Regions from separate parts of the Homo sapiens genome. Here all the other regions are linked to region 3. Evidence: fine-mapped expression QTL. A gene starts in region 3. Each other region holds a variant in brackets. All regions are shown on one strand. Distances are between the middles of the regions. Region 1 overlaps CLOCK (clock circadian regulator). Region 2 overlaps CLOCK (clock circadian regulator). Region 3 holds the start of SRD5A3 (steroid 5 alpha-reductase 3). Region 4 overlaps CLOCK (clock circadian regulator).

What was found. PIP is the estimated chance that this variant, and not a neighbour inherited with it, causes the effect.
Region 1: its variant is the best candidate, but not a certain one, in a credible set for the expression of SRD5A3 in whole blood (TOPMed, PIP 0.56).
Region 2: its variant is the best candidate, but not a certain one, in a credible set for the expression of SRD5A3 in whole blood (INTERVAL, PIP 0.68).
Region 4: its variant is the best candidate, but not a certain one, in a credible set for the expression of SRD5A3 in whole blood (INTERVAL, PIP 0.60).

What each region holds. Positions count from the first base shown.
Region 1 is chr4:55,533,738-55,537,904 of GRCh38, forward strand. The region is part of intron 1 of CLOCK (clock circadian regulator); the gene reads right to left. Among named protein-coding and RNA genes, the nearest start is that of CLOCK, 11 kb to the right of the region's middle. The variant T/G (reference allele first, on the strand shown) is at 1,645.
Region 2 is chr4:55,456,263-55,460,429 of GRCh38, forward strand. CLOCK (clock circadian regulator) reads right to left here. Exons shown (of 23, transcript NM_004898.4): 10 at 2,886-2,999; 11 at 2,630-2,748; 12 at 1-38. Among named protein-coding and RNA genes, the nearest start is that of TMEM165, 62 kb to the left of the region's middle. The variant A/G (reference allele first, on the strand shown) is at 1,660.
Region 3 is chr4:55,343,838-55,348,004 of GRCh38, forward strand. SRD5A3 (steroid 5 alpha-reductase 3) reads left to right here and starts at 2,405. Exons shown (of 5, transcript NM_024592.5): 1 at 2,405-2,720. The coding sequence starts at 2,500. RefSeq lists an enhancer at 2,126-2,886 and silencers at 2,338-2,507, 2,718-2,987.
Region 4 is chr4:55,480,698-55,484,864 of GRCh38, forward strand. CLOCK (clock circadian regulator) reads right to left here. Exons shown (of 23, transcript NM_004898.4): 4 at 2,042-2,131. The coding sequence starts at 2,088. Among named protein-coding and RNA genes, the nearest start is that of CLOCK, 64 kb to the right of the region's middle. The variant G/C (reference allele first, on the strand shown) is at 1,663.

The DNA.
Region 1 (4,167 bases), 190 kb after region 3:
ACTAATAGCACAAAAATTAGCCAGGCATGGTGGCACACGCCTGTAATCCCAGCTACTCGGGAGGCTGAGGCAGGAGAACAGCTTGAACCTGGGAGGCAGAGGTTGCAGTAATCCAAGATCATGCCACTACACTCCAGCCTGGGCAACAGAGTGAGACTCCATCTCAAAAAAATAAAACAAAAACAAAGTGCTTGTTTAAGATGCAGGAGAGTGGACACTTGTTTACTAAATTCAAGACACACTACAAAACTTTTGCTTTTCAGTAAACTCTCGATGTTTTCCTTTTTGCCTGTGTCTTAAAACATTAATGTATAAAGAACCCAATAGTAATAAAATGTTTTGTACATTTGTTTGCCATTTAATCTAGCTTGTACTACCCTATGATTAACAGCACTGAAGTAATTAATAATTACAGTTGTAATATGCAGCGAGTCAAGTGGAGCATCAGTGCAACAATACCAAACTTGAAACGAGTGCTTATTCTACTCTCAACTATCACCAAGCCAATCCTCCTCAAACTCTTCCAAAGAACTAAATGTGAGAGAACATTTCCAAACTCATTCTAAAAGGCCAGCATTACCCTGATATCAAAATCAGACAAAGATACCACAAAAAAAGAAAGCTACAGCAATAAACCTAATGAATACTGATTTTTTTACCCTTAAAAAAATACTAGCAAACCAAATTCAACAGCACACAGTCTATGTGCTGTTGTACTGCAGAATCTAATACTCCTGGGTATTTTTGTTATAGCAGCCAAAACTAAGATATCCATTCTATCCTCACATGCTAATAGACTCTAATCCCCTACACCTTGATTTGGTTTTCTCTACAATACAAATATCCATCTAGCATATATTTAACTCACTAGTTTCTCATCTGGTTTCCTCAGTTAGAACATAAGCTCCCTGAAGGCAGGGCTTTGTTCCCCAGCAGACAGAATAGTAGCTGGCACAGAACAGAATGCTCAATAAATACTTGCTGAATGAACAAGATGAAGACCACCATTAAAGGTATACTAAAAGACTTCAAAGCACTACTGAGAAAAATGAAAGGCCTAAATGAATGGAGAGGTATACTGTGTTCAAGGATCAAAGGACTCAATGTTGCTATCAGTTTTCTTTAAATTAATCTATAGAGTAAATACAACCCTAAACAAAATCTCAGCAGCCTTTTCTGTATAAAGTGAGAATTTTTTTTTTTTTTTTTTTGAGACAGTCTTGCTCTGTCATCCAAGCTGAGTCCAGCAGCACAGTCAATGGCTCACTGCAACCTCAACCTCCTGGGCTCAAGCAATCCTCCCATCTCAGCCTCCTGAGTAGGTGGGATCACAAGTGCATGCCACCATGTCTGGCTAATTTTTTTCTATTTTTTTGGAGAGCCAAAGGCCTCGCTATATTGCCACTACACTCCAACCTGGTCAATACAGAAAGACCTCTTTATCAGTATAAAAAAAAATTTTTTTGCTTCTTGATTATGGTGATTACAAGAATGTTTAGGTTTGTCAAAACTCAAGCTGCATACTTAAATTGGGCAGATTTTAACATATATACATTATACCCCAATAAAAATCAATTTTAAAAAATATACATCAAAAACTGAAACCCAACAACAAAATACCTAAAGAACACTACATAAAACAGC[T/G]CATAAATATTGAGTATTCTGCATACCTTTAAAAAATGACAGGCGCCAGCTAGAGTGGCTCATGCCTGTAATCCTAATAATTTGGAAGGTCAAAGCAGGAGGATCACTTGAGCCCAGGAGTTCAAGACAAGCCTGGGCAACAAAGTCACATCCTATCTCTGCAAAAATAAATGACAATAATAATAATAATAGGAAATTGTCTGCACTTAGGTAAAATGAACTAGTTTGAAGCAGGCCAATATTCTTGCTAAGAACAACTTAAAAAGCTAAATAAATTATAAAAATCATATTTTTAAAGTTAGTGAGGAGCTGTGGAAGCATGGGAAAGAAGGTCTAAAATTCCAGTGATGGGAGAATCTTTTTTTTTTTTTTTTTTTGAGATGGAGTCTTGTTGCTCTGTCACCCAGGCTGGAGTGCAGTGGCACAATCTTGGCTCACTGCAACCTCCACCTCAGAGATGGGGAGAATATTTTAAAGGTATTTAGATGACCAGTATCTGTCTTTTCCCTGGGAGTATTTCCTAATTATTGCTTGGGTTAGAGGCTGAAAATTGAGGCCTGACCTGTGTAAAATATTGTTGCTGAGGAACACAGAAGCCAGGACAGCTTTTGGTGTTCACACAGGGCTGGAATAACAACACTAGGAGACTAATTCTCCTAAAAAGTTTCACGCAAGGACCTCAAGCTTAAAGGTGGTATCTCCCCTCAGCATACTTGCTGAATTTTAAAACCGTGCAGGGTAAAAGGCTACAAAGTCAACTAAAAAACTTTGAAAAGCAAAGTGAAATTTCCTACCTTTGGCATTGCTAAAGGGACAAGACCAATAGGCTTTGAAATGAATGCCTTAGAAGACAACATCTGAAAAAACAAGGAAAAATAAGGATAGCAAACTATTAAAATAGCAACCCAGCCTCCACATAATTTAAGATGATGGGCTCCTGATATGGGTTGGATGCTTGTCCCCTCCAAATCTCATGATGAAATGTAAATGTAATTCCCAATGTTGGAAGTTGGGCCCAGTAGGAGGCAACTGGATCATGGGGGCAGATCCCTCATGAATGGTTTAGTACCATCTCCTCGGTAATAAGTGAGTTCACACAAGATCTGGTTGTTGAAAAGTCTGGGACCTGCCCCACCTTGCTCTCTTGCTCCCACTCTTGCCTTGTCATGCACCTGCTCTCCCTTCACTTTCAGCCATGACTAGAAACTTACTAAGCCTCACTATAAGCAGATGCCGGCACCATGCTTCCTATACACTTTGGAGAACCGTAAGCCAATTAAGCTTCTTTTCTTTATAAATTACCCAGTCTCACGTATTCTTTTATAGTAATGCAAACAGACTAATACAGCTCCCTAGCCTATCTGCATAGAAAATGAACTTCCCCTTCCCCCACCCCTCTCCCAACCCGGCAAAATGTACCATTACCTGGTAATGCTTACTTAAGTTTTTTACTACACAATGCCTGGCATTCAATAAAAAATTATGAGACATAAACAAAACAATCAACAGACTTGACCTAACTGACATTTGTAAAACACTCCACCTAACAACAAAACACACATTCTTTTCAACTGCACATGAAGAACACTTACAATGATAGAATATATTCTAGGCCATAAAATAAATCCGAATAAATTTAAAATTATCTCATTACAATGGAATTAAATTAAAAATAACAATGATCTCTGGAAAATCCTCAAATATTTGAAAACTATATAACACACTTATAAATAAACTATAGACCCAGTAAGACATCAGGAAAGAAATTATAAAGTACTCTGAATGGAATGAAAATGGAAACATATCAAAAACTGGAAACGGCCAGGAGTGGAGGCTCACATCTGTATCCCAGCACTCCAGGAGGCCAAGGAAAGAGGATTGCTTGAACTGAGTTCAAGACCAACATGGGCAACACAGTGACATCCTTGTCTTCAGAAAAAATTGTAATAAACTCTGGCCAGGTGTGGTGGCTTACACCTGTAATCCTAGCACTTTGGGAGGCTGAGGCAAGTGGATTGCCTGAGCTCAGGAGTTGACGACCAGCCTGGGCAACATAGTGAAACCCTATCTCTACAAAAAATACAAAAATTAGCCAGGCATGATGGCACGCGCCTGTAATCCCAGCACTTAATAGACTCTGGTGCGAGGATCTCTTGAGCCTGAGACGTCGACACTGTGGTGACCCCGTGATTGGGCCACTGCACTAAAGCCTAGGCAACGGAGTGAGACCCAGTCTCAAAAAAATAAAAATAAAAATAAAAAATTAGCCAGGCATGGTGGCACATGCCTGCAGTCCCAGCTACTCAGGAGGCTGAGGTGGGAGGATCACTTGAGCCTGAGAGGTCAAGGCTGCAATGGGCCATGATCACGATACTGTACTGCCTGAGCAGTAGTGAGACCTTGTCTCAAAAAACAAATAAATAAATTATAAACAATTAAAGGGAAGTTTATAGCATGCTTACATTAGAAAAGAAAAAAGGTCACAAATCAATGACCTCAGCTTCTATCTTAAGAAACCAGAAA
Region 2 (4,167 bases), 110 kb after region 3:
GTAAACTCTTCATTGGGTTCTTCAACAGTGCACATTTCCTACAAATAAATAATTAAAATTTATAAATACTTTGTGTCCTTAAGAATATTAAATATTGCTACATATAAAAATAAGTCATGGCCAGGTGCAGTGGCTCACACCTGTAATCCCAGCACTTTGGGAGGCTGAGGTGGGCAAATCACTTAGGTCAGGAGTTTGAGACCAGCCTGGCCAACATGGTGAAACCCGATTTCTACTAAAAATACAAAAAATAGCAGGGCACGGTGGCGGGCACCTGTAATCCCAGCTATTCGGCAGGCTGAGGCAGCAGGATCACTTGAACCCAGGAGGTGGAGGTTAAATAAATACATAAATAAATAGTCATTACTAGATAAACTTTTCCTAAACAAGTTAGTTGTTTCTATGTATGTATATATTTACCTATTTCTTTGTTTGACACAGGGTCTCACTCTGTCACTCAGCCTGAAGTACAGTGGTGTGATCTCAGTTCACTGCAGCCTCAACATCCTAGGCTCAAGCGATCCTCCTGCCTCAGCTTCCCAAGTAGCTGGGACTATAGGGATGCACCACCACGCCCGGCTAATTTTTGTATTTTTATTTGTAGAGGTGGGGGGTCTATGTTGTCTAGGCTGGTCTTCAACTCCTGGGCTCAAGCAACCTGCCCACCACAGCCTCCCAAAGTGCTGGGATTCTAGGCATAAGCCAAAATGCAGGCCCTTCTAAACAAGTTAATATATTTTAATTTTCCAGTACTAAAGAATGTGGTAATAAATAACCTTTAGATGCAAGCTTTTGGGTGGGTACTTCTCACTCTACACATTTTCCATTCACACATGCCTATAAACGCTTATTCAAAATTCAGACCTCTCTCCTGAATTACAGTTCCATATTTCCAAATATCTGAATGTCCTCATACATCTCAAATTCAATATGTCCTAAAATAAACTAACTGCTTTACTCCTCACACCCAATCACACAATTTTCCGTATTATTCTATACATGTGTAGTGGCCAGTGTCTAGAAATCTGATAGTTAAAAAAACATACTCTTTCATTTTTACCTTTCATCATCTAAGTGGCCATTACTAAATCTTTTCCATTTCATCTAAGTATTTTAAAAATCAATTCTATCTCATCCATCTTGAGTGCATTGGTTTAGACCCCTGCCATCACTGATTTGCTACAGTGTTCACCAGTCTCCCTGTCCTTCAACTCATCTTCTCTTCTAGGGCCACAATTACCTTACCAATACTCAAATATTATATGACTTCCCTGCTAAAAAACCTTCAGTGGTTCCTTGTGCTAAACTCTCTTCAGCATGGAGAAATAAACAAGAAAGAAACAAATTTTATTTCTGGTTTCTGATTACTTTTCTAGCCTTACCTCCCACTATCTCTTCCCCCTCCACACACTAACCCTAGACTCTAGTCATACTAAACAATGTATTCCATCCTGCCTCTGTGTCCCTGAATGACCTGCAGCACTCTGTAATAGTTGAGAGCTTGGGCTTTGAGAAAAAAACAATTATTAATTAATAGAATCAAGTCCCAGTTTCATCACTAATAGCTGAGACTTTGGGCAAGTCACTTAACTTCCCTAAGCCTGTTTCCTTATAATGTAAAATGAGGGATCGTAATGGCATCTAACTTATAGGGTTGTC[A/G]TAAGAATTAATGAGATAATGCATATAAAATACACAGCATGTAGTAAGCACTCAAATGTTAACAACTATTATTTCATAAGATCAAAACAAACCAAGCAAGACTGGCTTAAGATCTTCTATTAATTCAGTACTTTGTCCTATACTATGATGTCCCCCCAAATTTATTTGAGACAGAGTCAGACTCTGTCTCAAAATAAAATGCAAACACAGTTCACTGCAGCCTCGACCTCCTGGGCTCAAATGATCCTCCTGCCTCAGCCTCCTGAGTAACTGAGACCACAGGTGTGTAACACCATGCCTGGCTAATTTTTTGTATTTTTTGTAGAGATGGGGTCTTGTCACGTTGCCCAGGCTGGTCTCAAACTACTGGGCTCAGGCAATCCTCTCGCCTTGCTCTCCCAAAGTGCTGGGATTACAGGCATGAGTCACCTCGCCTGGCCCCGCCGAAATTTTAAATCTTAGCCTGGCTGCCTCTTTCCAGTCAGTTTCTAGTGGTTAACTCTTTCACTTTCCCACTTCCCTACTTGTCATCTGTTTGTTGGGTCCAGGAAATAAAAATAAAATACCTAATTTTACATTTGAAAAGGTAAGTTATATGTGGCAAAGAGCCACTTGTACATTTCAAATAAAAATTTAAAAGTTACCTTCTAAAAATAAAGATTCCAAAAACCTAGATTTTTGGACTTTCCCTTTTAATAGAGATAATGAACAACACACAAAAGGATCCTAAAATCTTCCACAAAAGTAGGGCAATATTGATATATAATAATCACTGGTTAACTGCAAAGGATATATACTAAAAAATTAGTTATACAATTTAATGAGTGTCTTGATAACTCATCGTTTCAAAAATATTATCATGCATATTTAATGACTCATAGCCATTCCACCTCAATGTCTGCAGGAAGTTTCAGGCAGCTCTCAGCATATGAACTGAAATCCCCTTTGGGAAATAAAATTAAAAACATACCTTGATGAACTGAGGTGTAGCTAACCTGACAGTAGCTACAAAACAAACTCTATCTTCATAAGATGGCCTATGTGTGCGTTGTATAGTTCCTTCAAAACCATTGTGTGCTGAAGAGGATACTAAAACAATAGGGAAATATGTATCATCAGTTATGCCAGCAAAACCTAATTGTCACTGATATTCAAACATCTATGTCTTTAAGAGCACAGAAAAATAACAAGTTAAAACACATTGTGAGAGAAGCATTTTAACTCACCACTGTTTAAAGATTTGAAATTTCCTATAAATTTTACATATTCATAGGTAGATGGCTCCTTTGGGTCTATTGTTCCTCGCAGCATGTGACAACAGAATTCTAACTGATTTTTTGCTGAAATAAAAGAGATTTTAAAAATCACATATTTCTGATATAAAACAATGATTGATATACCACATAAAGTAAGATCATAAAAGTTGTGTAAGTTTACAACCATTATTTTCCCCAACAGAAGTCGTCAATGACATTTAGTTCATAAAAGTAGAGCACCTTCAGGAGAGGATCTCACTTTGTCTTTAATAGAAAAAATAGATTTTCTGGTGCAAACAACTTAATGTTTCCCTATTTTTAGCTACTCATCCTTTTCATTCTTTACTCACTTTCAAAGGAAAGTTTTGCTTCACATTCTAAAGCTAATCCTTCCATCTCTACCATTTATAGTCTTTCCTATTTTCTCTAGGACCCGGGCCACATCACTGTTCCTTATTCCTTTAGCATCTACACCTTTGGGTCCTTACTTTCTTCTTTTTTTTGAGACAGGGTCTTGATTTGTCACCCAGGCTGGAGTGCAGTGGCATGATCACTGCTCACTGTGGCATTGAACTCCTGGGCTCAAGTGAGCCCCCTGCCTCAGCCTCCCAAGTACGCAAGACTACAGGTGTGAGCCACCATGCCTGGCTAATTTTTAATTTTTTATAGAAATGGGGTCTCACTATGTTGCCCAGGCTGGTTGCAAGCTTCTAGGCTCAAGCAATCCTCCTGCCTCAAAGTGGAGGGATTATAGGCGAGAGCCACTGCACCTGGCCAAGGGTCCTTACTATCTACTTTTAAATTTGCTCACGTCTTCCATCTGAAATAAAGGAGTTTCACTAATTATTTGGTATTATAGATCTCCTTCCTTTTCATTATGGGCTCCATCTTCCATATATTCATTTCCCTTAACTTCACACACTGTGACTTACACCTCTACAGCAATTATTCTTCTCAAGATTACTAACATTTGTATCGTTAACTTCAATGATTTTTCATTTCCACTTCTTAAAAGTCATCCTTTGTCATTCCCACAGCATAAACTTACCTTCCCACCTTACTGACTATTCCTATCTCTTCTGCTAATCCATTTTCATACTAGGGGTTTTCACAAAGGTTCTTCTGATCCTAAATCTCTCTCTCCAACTCTAGCATTTTACGTGAGACAAAGTTACCTATCATTTGCTTTCAGGACATTCGAACTTGATTGTCCCATTAGTAACTTAAATTCAAAATACTTGAAAGTGAATTT
Region 3 (4,167 bases):
GGAATCAAGGTTGAGTTTAGGGTTTTTGGCCTGAGCAACTGGAAAAATGGCTTTGCCGTTTACTGCAGGCAATACCAGTAGTTTGTTGAACATATAGTGCAGTTAATTAAATGAAGAAAGACAAAAATGCTCACTGATATTTATTAGCAATGATCTTTCTAACAGATGTTAGCCTGGTATTCCACTTTTGAACTAACTCACTCCAGTAAGGATTTACATTTACAAATACTCCCAGGAGGGTTTAACTTACGGCTTTCTGTTCAGCCACTGCCATCTACAGGGGGCTTCTCTGAATATAAACTGTGCATGCTGATTAAAATCTAAAAAATAGCCAGGCAGGGTGGCTCACGCCTGTAATCTCAGCACTTTGGGAGGCCGAGGCAAGCGGATCACCTGAGGTCGGGAGTTTGAGACCAGCCTGACCAACATGGAGAAACCCCGTCTCTACTAATAATACAAAATTAGCCTGGTGTGGTGTCACATGCCTGTAATCCCAGCTACTCGGGAGGCTGAGGCAGAATAGCTTGAACCCAGGAGGCAGAGGTCACGGTGAGCCAAGATCGTGCCATTGCACTCCAGCCCGGGCAACAAGAGTGAAACTCGGTCTCAAAAAAAAAAATCTAAAAAATATATGGGATGATTTTCCCCTCCAGCCTCCTCAACCCTTCCTGTTTCCACTACACACACACTCACACATACACACACACTTATCTTGTTTTCAATCTTGCCCCAGGTCAGACAACTGTAAGAGAAACTCCTACCCAGGAAACTGAGTCCCTGCAATGCACTTACAAGTAGCTTCTCTGAAAAGAAAAAGATCATGGACAGACCAGCTGCATTTACAGAGAGTTAACCTAAGAAAAATAAAGAAACAGTGAAGGGGTGCCAGGAGCATTGGCTCATGCTTGTAATCCCAGCACTTTGGGAGGCCGAGGCAGATGGATCACGAGGTCAGGAGATCAAGACCATCCTGGCTAACACAGTGAAACCCCATCTCCACTAAAAATACAAAAAAAAAAAAAAAAAAAAAGCCAGGCGTGGTTGGGGGGGCACCTGTAGTCCCAGCTATTCGGGAGGCTGAGGTAGGAGAATGGTGTGAACCTGGGAGGCAGAGCTTGCAGTGAGCAGAGATCAGGCCACTGCACTCCAGCCTGGGCGACAAAGCGAGACTCCATCTCAAAAAAAAAAAAAAGAAAAGAAAGAAACAGTGAAAGGGTGACTCCCGCAAAAGAGATCCAGGATCACTCAATAAGGCCTCATTGTCCTAGCTAGAATGCCAATTTAACCATCCTTAATCACCTGGCTGTCAAAGGACGGGTAAAGCCTTAGGTGTCTTTTGCACAAAGAAGAAAACTTTAAAAGCTTGCTCATTTAACAGTCCAAAGTCCCACTAACCTACCCACCCTGATGTTTATTCAACACACATATCGGGTATCTCATTGGGGTAAGGGTGATGAGTTGGCTACCTCTCCCCTCTTCCACTTCTCACCCACCACCCAATCTCAAAAATGTAAGCTCCAAATAAGCAGTGACAATTATCTTGTAAACCCCTCTGTCCTCAGTATCCAAAATGATGCCTGTCATACAGTAGGCATACAATACTTCAGAATTAACATTTTAAAGACTTTTAAATACTTAAAAGAGCTAGATTTTCACTTATAGTAAATAAAATCAGTGTTGTTTAAAATCAGTGAGTCAATAAATAGCATTGTCACTACCTGAGATAAATGTTACAGGAAACAGCTGATGGAATTTAAAAACTTTGCTTCTAAGGATTGGAACCCTATTGGTAAGCGACTGCTGTTTTTTAAACACAGTTTTTACCACTATGATTTTTATTATTATGTGCAATTACTTGTCTACATGTTTACATTATACACATATCCAACACATTTCCAGCATCCTAACATAATTATTCATTTTTGGGTGTGATCTGCCTTCTTTATCCATATATACACACATTCATATTAATATAGTTGTTTGCAATCATAGCTATGTATTTTTATGGTTGGTTTTGTTTTTCACTTCACATATTGTTTCCTAAACAGCTTTCCCTGTTTCTACACTCGTCATAATAATTCTCAATGACTGCATGATATTCTAACATGTCAGTGTATCATAATTTAGCTAAATAAACTAAAATGCAACATGTAAGGTTTCCATTTTTTGCTTTGGAGATAATGTTGATAAGAGTGGCAGACACGTGGTCTCGTCTGTTTTGCGTCTTTGCTTCTGATGAATCATATTCTGGAGCTCCATCTAAGAATCCCCATGCCCAGATTAGGGACTGCGAGCGACCACCCAGCGCCAGCGCGACCAGGACCAAGGACCTCCGCGGCTGAGCGGCGAGTCCGGGAGGGGCTCTGCGCGTCCCCGCCCCGCGCCGCGTCACCGACGTCCCGCTAGGCTGAGACCGGTGCGCCGCGCGCTAGTGGCCGCTCTTCCGCGGGCTAGCGGGCGGTGGGGGCGCCAGCAGCGCGGAAGGCGGGCACGCGGGCCATGGCTCCCTGGGCGGAGGCCGAGCACTCGGCGCTGAACCCGCTGCGCGCGGTGTGGCTCACGCTGACCGCCGCCTTCCTGCTGACCCTACTGCTGCAGCTCCTGCCGCCCGGCCTGCTCCCGGGCTGCGCGATCTTCCAGGACCTGATCCGCTATGGGAAAACCAAGTGTGGGGAGCCGTCGCGCCCCGCCGCCTGCCGAGCCTTTGATGTCCCCAAGAGGTAACCGCGCCCCGGTCCCGAGCCGCGGTGGTCAAGGCGCTGAGAGTTCGGGGCGCCCCGGCTCGCGGGCAGCCAGCAGGGGGCAGCAGAGGCGGGACCCGGCCTGGGAGGCCCTGGCGGGTTCCCGGGCGCAGCACGGCGCTCCCTCGGCCTGGCCCCGGCCATGCCCCGGCTGCTGCGTGGCTCCGGGGAGCAGTGCCCGGGTGTCCGCGGACGCCGAGGGAGAGCGGAGCCGCTTGCACTCAGCTGGAGGAATGTGAACTGGTAGCCGCACGGAGCCTTTCCCTGTGGGAAATGGCAACGCATCCGAATTTAGGCCTGGTCATGCGAATTTAGGCGGCAAATTGAAGTGCCCCTTGCCCCAAATTCTCCTTTTTCCCGTACCCTGCACTCCAGTGGCTCATACTCTAACTTGAGGTCACCGGGAATCATTTGTGGAAATGAAGTTAGGCCGGCTCTTCGGCCTCGGCTTCCCCCGTTTCTCTTCCCAACCCTTGCAGTGGGGACAAAGGACTGAGTCGCCCTAACCTGCACCTTGGCAGGTGCCCCTGGGGAAGGTGGCCCAAGGTGCAGGTCATAGGCAGGCCCGTCCCGAAGCTCCATTTGACTTTCGAAAAATTCTGTAACCCAGTTCAGCGAAGGATTAAATCGTCAGGTTTTAAATAGAGACCTGTTATAATTTTCTTCTTCTCCTTTTTCCACTTTAAATTCAGGACATAGCTGGAAAGAGTTGGCCAAATACTATTCGAGATGGTAGAAATAGAACAGTGCCCCTTAAGATGCATCTTAGGCCGGGCGCAGTGGCTCACGCCTGTAATCCCAGCACTTTAGGAGGCTGAGGCAGGCGGATCGCTTGAGTTCAGGAGTTCGAGACCAGGCTGGGAAATATAGTGAGACTCCGTCTCTCCTGAAAATACAAAAAATTGGCAGGGCTTGGTGGCGTGTGCCTGTAGTGCCAGCTACTTGGAATGAAGGCAGGAAGATCATCTGAGATCAGGCATTGGAGACTGCAGTGGGCTATAATCATGGCACTGCACTCTAGCCTGGGCAACAGAGAAATACCTTGTATTTAAAAAAAATTTTTTTTTAAAGGTTAAAAACATCTGGGTTGTCGCTTGAAACACTCATAGGCAGTGCCCCAGGTCCGCAGGCAACAAAGGGACAAGTATAATTTGGCTTCTAAAACTTGGATAATCTGCGAATTTTGACTGTCAGAGAAAGATGTGTCATGTGTTAACACAGAGAAGGGAGAACTAGGTCATTCTGAGGCACCCTAAAGGGAAGAAGTAGAAGTACATGAAACAAATTGATCAAACCTCCTGTTTCCTAGAGGCTCTTTTTAAGCAAAAATTACCTGTTATCCCATTTGTAATCAGGGTTGAATCCTTTTATACTTCACAGCAATTTATTTTCTGAGTTTTGAGAAAGGTACTAGTCTAGTGTACCT
Region 4 (4,167 bases), 140 kb after region 3:
TGGCTAACACAGTGAAACCCAGTCTCTACTAAAGATACAAAAACTTAGCCGGGCGTGGTGATGGGCAACTGTAGTCCCAGCTACTCAGGAGGCTGAGGCAGGAGAATGGCGTGAACCCAGGAGGTGGAGCTTGCAGTGAGCCGAGATCGTACCACTGCACTCCAGCCTGGCCAACAGAGTGAGACTCTGTCTCAAAAAAAAAAAAGAGATGAGTTTTAATTTTTTTTAAAGGGGTGATGTTTTAGTAACTGCAGTCTGAGCGGTTAGTGGGGGACACGTGAGCTAGGATCTAAGTGACAAGAAGGGGCTGGCTATGGGAAGATGTAAGGAAAGACCATTCCTAAAAAATAAAATCAAGAGCATTGGTGGCTAACTCAACCCTAGGAGCAATATTAAAGTTTCTGCTGATTTATGAAGTTTTACATAAATTCCCTATTCACTCCTTTAGCCACACCTTTCTATGGCCTATAAAGGCCTATATGCTATAAAATGGAGTCACTATTGAGATCACCTGTAACACTCATATCATGGTGGAGGTGCATGTATGAACTTGGGGATTCCATGTAGGCCCTGAAATTTATAAAAAATTGTTATATGTATATGAATTTTCCGAGAACAGAGTTCATAACTTCCATGACATTCAGAGATAAGGAACCCATATTAATAATCACTGCTTTATGTCTGAAAATACAAATGTCATCCCTAGGTGTCATACTATCTAGAATGGGAAAAGCATAATGCCAAATTCATATTTTATCCATCAAAGGCAGTGAAGAAATATCTTTTCCAAGAAAAAGACTATCATTAATTCCGCCTGTAACTATGGCACAGTTCAAAGCTATTGACATGGTGCAGGCAGGCTTCTTTAAGGAAGTTTCTTGCTCCTCACATCTTAAGTTCTGGTGGAGTATACATCTTTACTATCTAGCTCATAAAAAGGGAGAAGAGCTGTCCCCAGATGTCAAAAGTCACTTCTGTGTACAAGTCTAGCTGCAAAACTCTTAAAGAATCCCAATGGATGGAGCACACCGAACAGTGCAATAAACGCATTAACAACTTTAATGTCAGACAAACCAACACAAGTAAAAATTCCAGATCATATCTTACTAGCTATGTGACTTTAAACAAGTTATTTAACCTCTCTGACCTACAGTTTTCTCATTTGTAAAATCTTGCAGAATTATTGAGGTTAAATAACATGTAAAAAAGTATTCTGTACATTTGCTGTCAGAGTAGATGCTTTAAAAATGTTGTTGGATTATATCAAATTTAAGATATTATTGACTGTTAAGATCACCACTATTTTATGTGCCCTTAAGAAAGAAAAAAAGAGTGCTACCAATTAAATTATGATAAGAGATGCTAAAATGTAAAAAACAAAGACAACTTAAAGTCTTTTCTTTTCTACTTTTACTTTAGGTTCAGGGGTACCTGTGTAGGTTTTTCATGCGGGTAGACTACGTGTCGCTGAGGTTTGGTGTACCAATGATCTCACCACCCAAGTAGTGAGCACAGTACCCAATAGTTTTTTAACCCTCACTGCCCCCTTCCACCCTCCTCCAAAAATTTCAAGTATTAAAATCAAAGGAATATGGAGATTTACCCTTTTCCCAAGAGTATGATGTAAAGATTACAATTTTAACTAATGAAATCCTAATTATA[G/C]TTACTTCTTATCAGTCACAAATGCTAAGATGCTTGAAGGGATGAAGTTAGATAAGAAGAAAAAGGACTCCAGAAGGTTCCAAGGAAACATTTGCAACTGTCAGAATTTCCTTCAGAGCAGCTATGACCAAATCACTAAAAATTACAAGTCAGGACTCATTTAAAACACACAAGCCATATGCTGCTGACTTTGCCTCTGGAAAATACTGATATACCTTACTTATTTTTTTATACTATATTTGTTTAATACAGAAACTGAATGCAATAGTAATTATGTTTAGGCATAAAATTCCTTCTATCAATTTCATATAGACCATTATTCTAATAGTGCATTTTAAAATAATTATATATAACTTAAAATAAGTCTTCAAAAACATACCTGTCAACAATCGAGCTCATTTTACTACAGCTTACGGTAAACAACATAACATACTACGTTTTCGTCTTGTAGTAGACATTTGTACTTCTCCTTAGGTGAAAAGAAAAATAAATGGTCATTAGTTTTCTAAAAATGTTACTTCCACAAACTTATCTTGAGAAATACTATATGTTATCACAGAGACTTCAAAACGTTTTGTTTGTACTGAAGATCAGAACATTATTTTCAAGCAAATACCTATGGCTGAGGTACATTTGAGGCTTCTTTTCCCCTCCTAAAAAACACCTACAAGAAAAAAAGTAATTCAGGCTCATATTAACTTTCTCTTTACTATCAATCAAAATAAAATGGACATTCTCAATATTCAGTATATATTTGACTATATAACTACAAATAGTCTGTAATAACACCATCTATTCAGCAATAAATATTTGTTGAAAGCCTATTTTCTGCTAAACAGTACAGCAGGCTTTGGGCACATAACAGTGAAAGACACAGTCCCTGTAGGAAAAATTTGCAATTGAGCAGGAAGATAGATATCTAAATAATTATAATAAGAGGTATAATGAAGGTATATACTGTGTAATGCTATCACTGGGCAAGGAACAATTATGTCTACCCGTGGGAATTAGAGAGGGGAAACGAGGAAATATTCTTGATGACAGTAAGTCTGTCAGGGAGTCAAAATTCTTTTTTAATGCAAATATGGTGCAGGGATGGGCAGCATCACCATCCTCTGAGAGCTTGTTTTCAAAGGCAAAATCTTAATGAACCAGAATCTACATTTTCACAAGGGCTCCACGTGATAATGTATGACCACTTAAGTTTGAGAAGCAACAGGCTGGAGGACAGAAACAGATAATAGGTGAAAGAATTTTAAGCGACAGGAATGGCAATTTGTAAAGGCACAGGCCTTAGTGAGACAAAAGAATATCGTATTTGAGAAACTAAGAGGTTTAGCATTTTCCTTATGAAAAACCTGGGATGTTACAATTTAAAGTTATAATTACTAGACCATAAAGTTTGAGAATACAAGTGGTAAACTGGCAAAGGCAAGTCAAGTACAGGAGAGTCTTACTATAAAGAGTCTCATACCCAAATTGAAGGAAGTAAAACTTACTGCTTTAAAGCTGGATCACAAGCCTAAAATTTGTCTCTCTATATTCTATAGGTTGAGTATCCCTAATCTGAAAACCTGAAATCCAAAATACTCCAAAATCTGAAAGCTTTTGAGCATCAACATAATGTTCAACATTCAAAGGAAATGCTCAACGGAGCATTTCTAAACCAGAGAAGATTAAAGATATTACAAGAACGTGAGATTCTAAACATTCAGTCACTGTTTTCAAATGCACCTTCATGAAAGGAAAGGAGAATAACCCTGGCAACATTGCTGCATTGCCTGTATGGTTATGGCTGCAGAAGTAGAACTGTGAGGGGCTCAGAATATTTTTTTTTCTTTTTGTTTTTGAGATGGGGTCTTACTCTGTTGCCCAGGGTGGAGTGCTGTGGCATGATCATAGCTCACTGCTGCCTTGAAATCCTGGCCTCAAGCAATCCTGCCACTTCAGCCTCCTGAGTAGCTGGGATTACAGGTGCTCGCTACCATACCCAGGGCTAAGAGTTCTTAAAAGAAAATGAGTGACAGAGTCAAAGATAGAAATAATAAAATAAAAAGGACTAACACCAGGATGAAAAGTTGTGATTTTAAGTGTCTGAGGTAGTATCAGCAGATGGAACACAGAACTACAGAATTTTAGAGGTAGAAGAGAATTTAAAGACCACCTAAGTACATTTCTCTGGTCCAACAGACATATTTATCTTCATGGTAAGAAGTGAGGCTGATTCTATCACTAGAAGAGGAAGAACAGTATAAAAGTAATAGGGCAAATTTCAGTGAATTCAAAAAGAATTGTTAAGAGTAAAAAGTTCAAAAGGCCAGATCTGAGCCTTATAAGGCACCCAGTAAGTATGGCTTAATTATCAAAAGGTAGAAAATAAGACAAACTACCAAAAAAAGGGCAGGGGGTGGTGGCGGGGACTAGGCAACGCCAAGAATTAAGGGTTATACTACAGGAAAAGCCTTGCTGACTACTAGAAGGGTGAATCCAATATAGTTTAGAAGA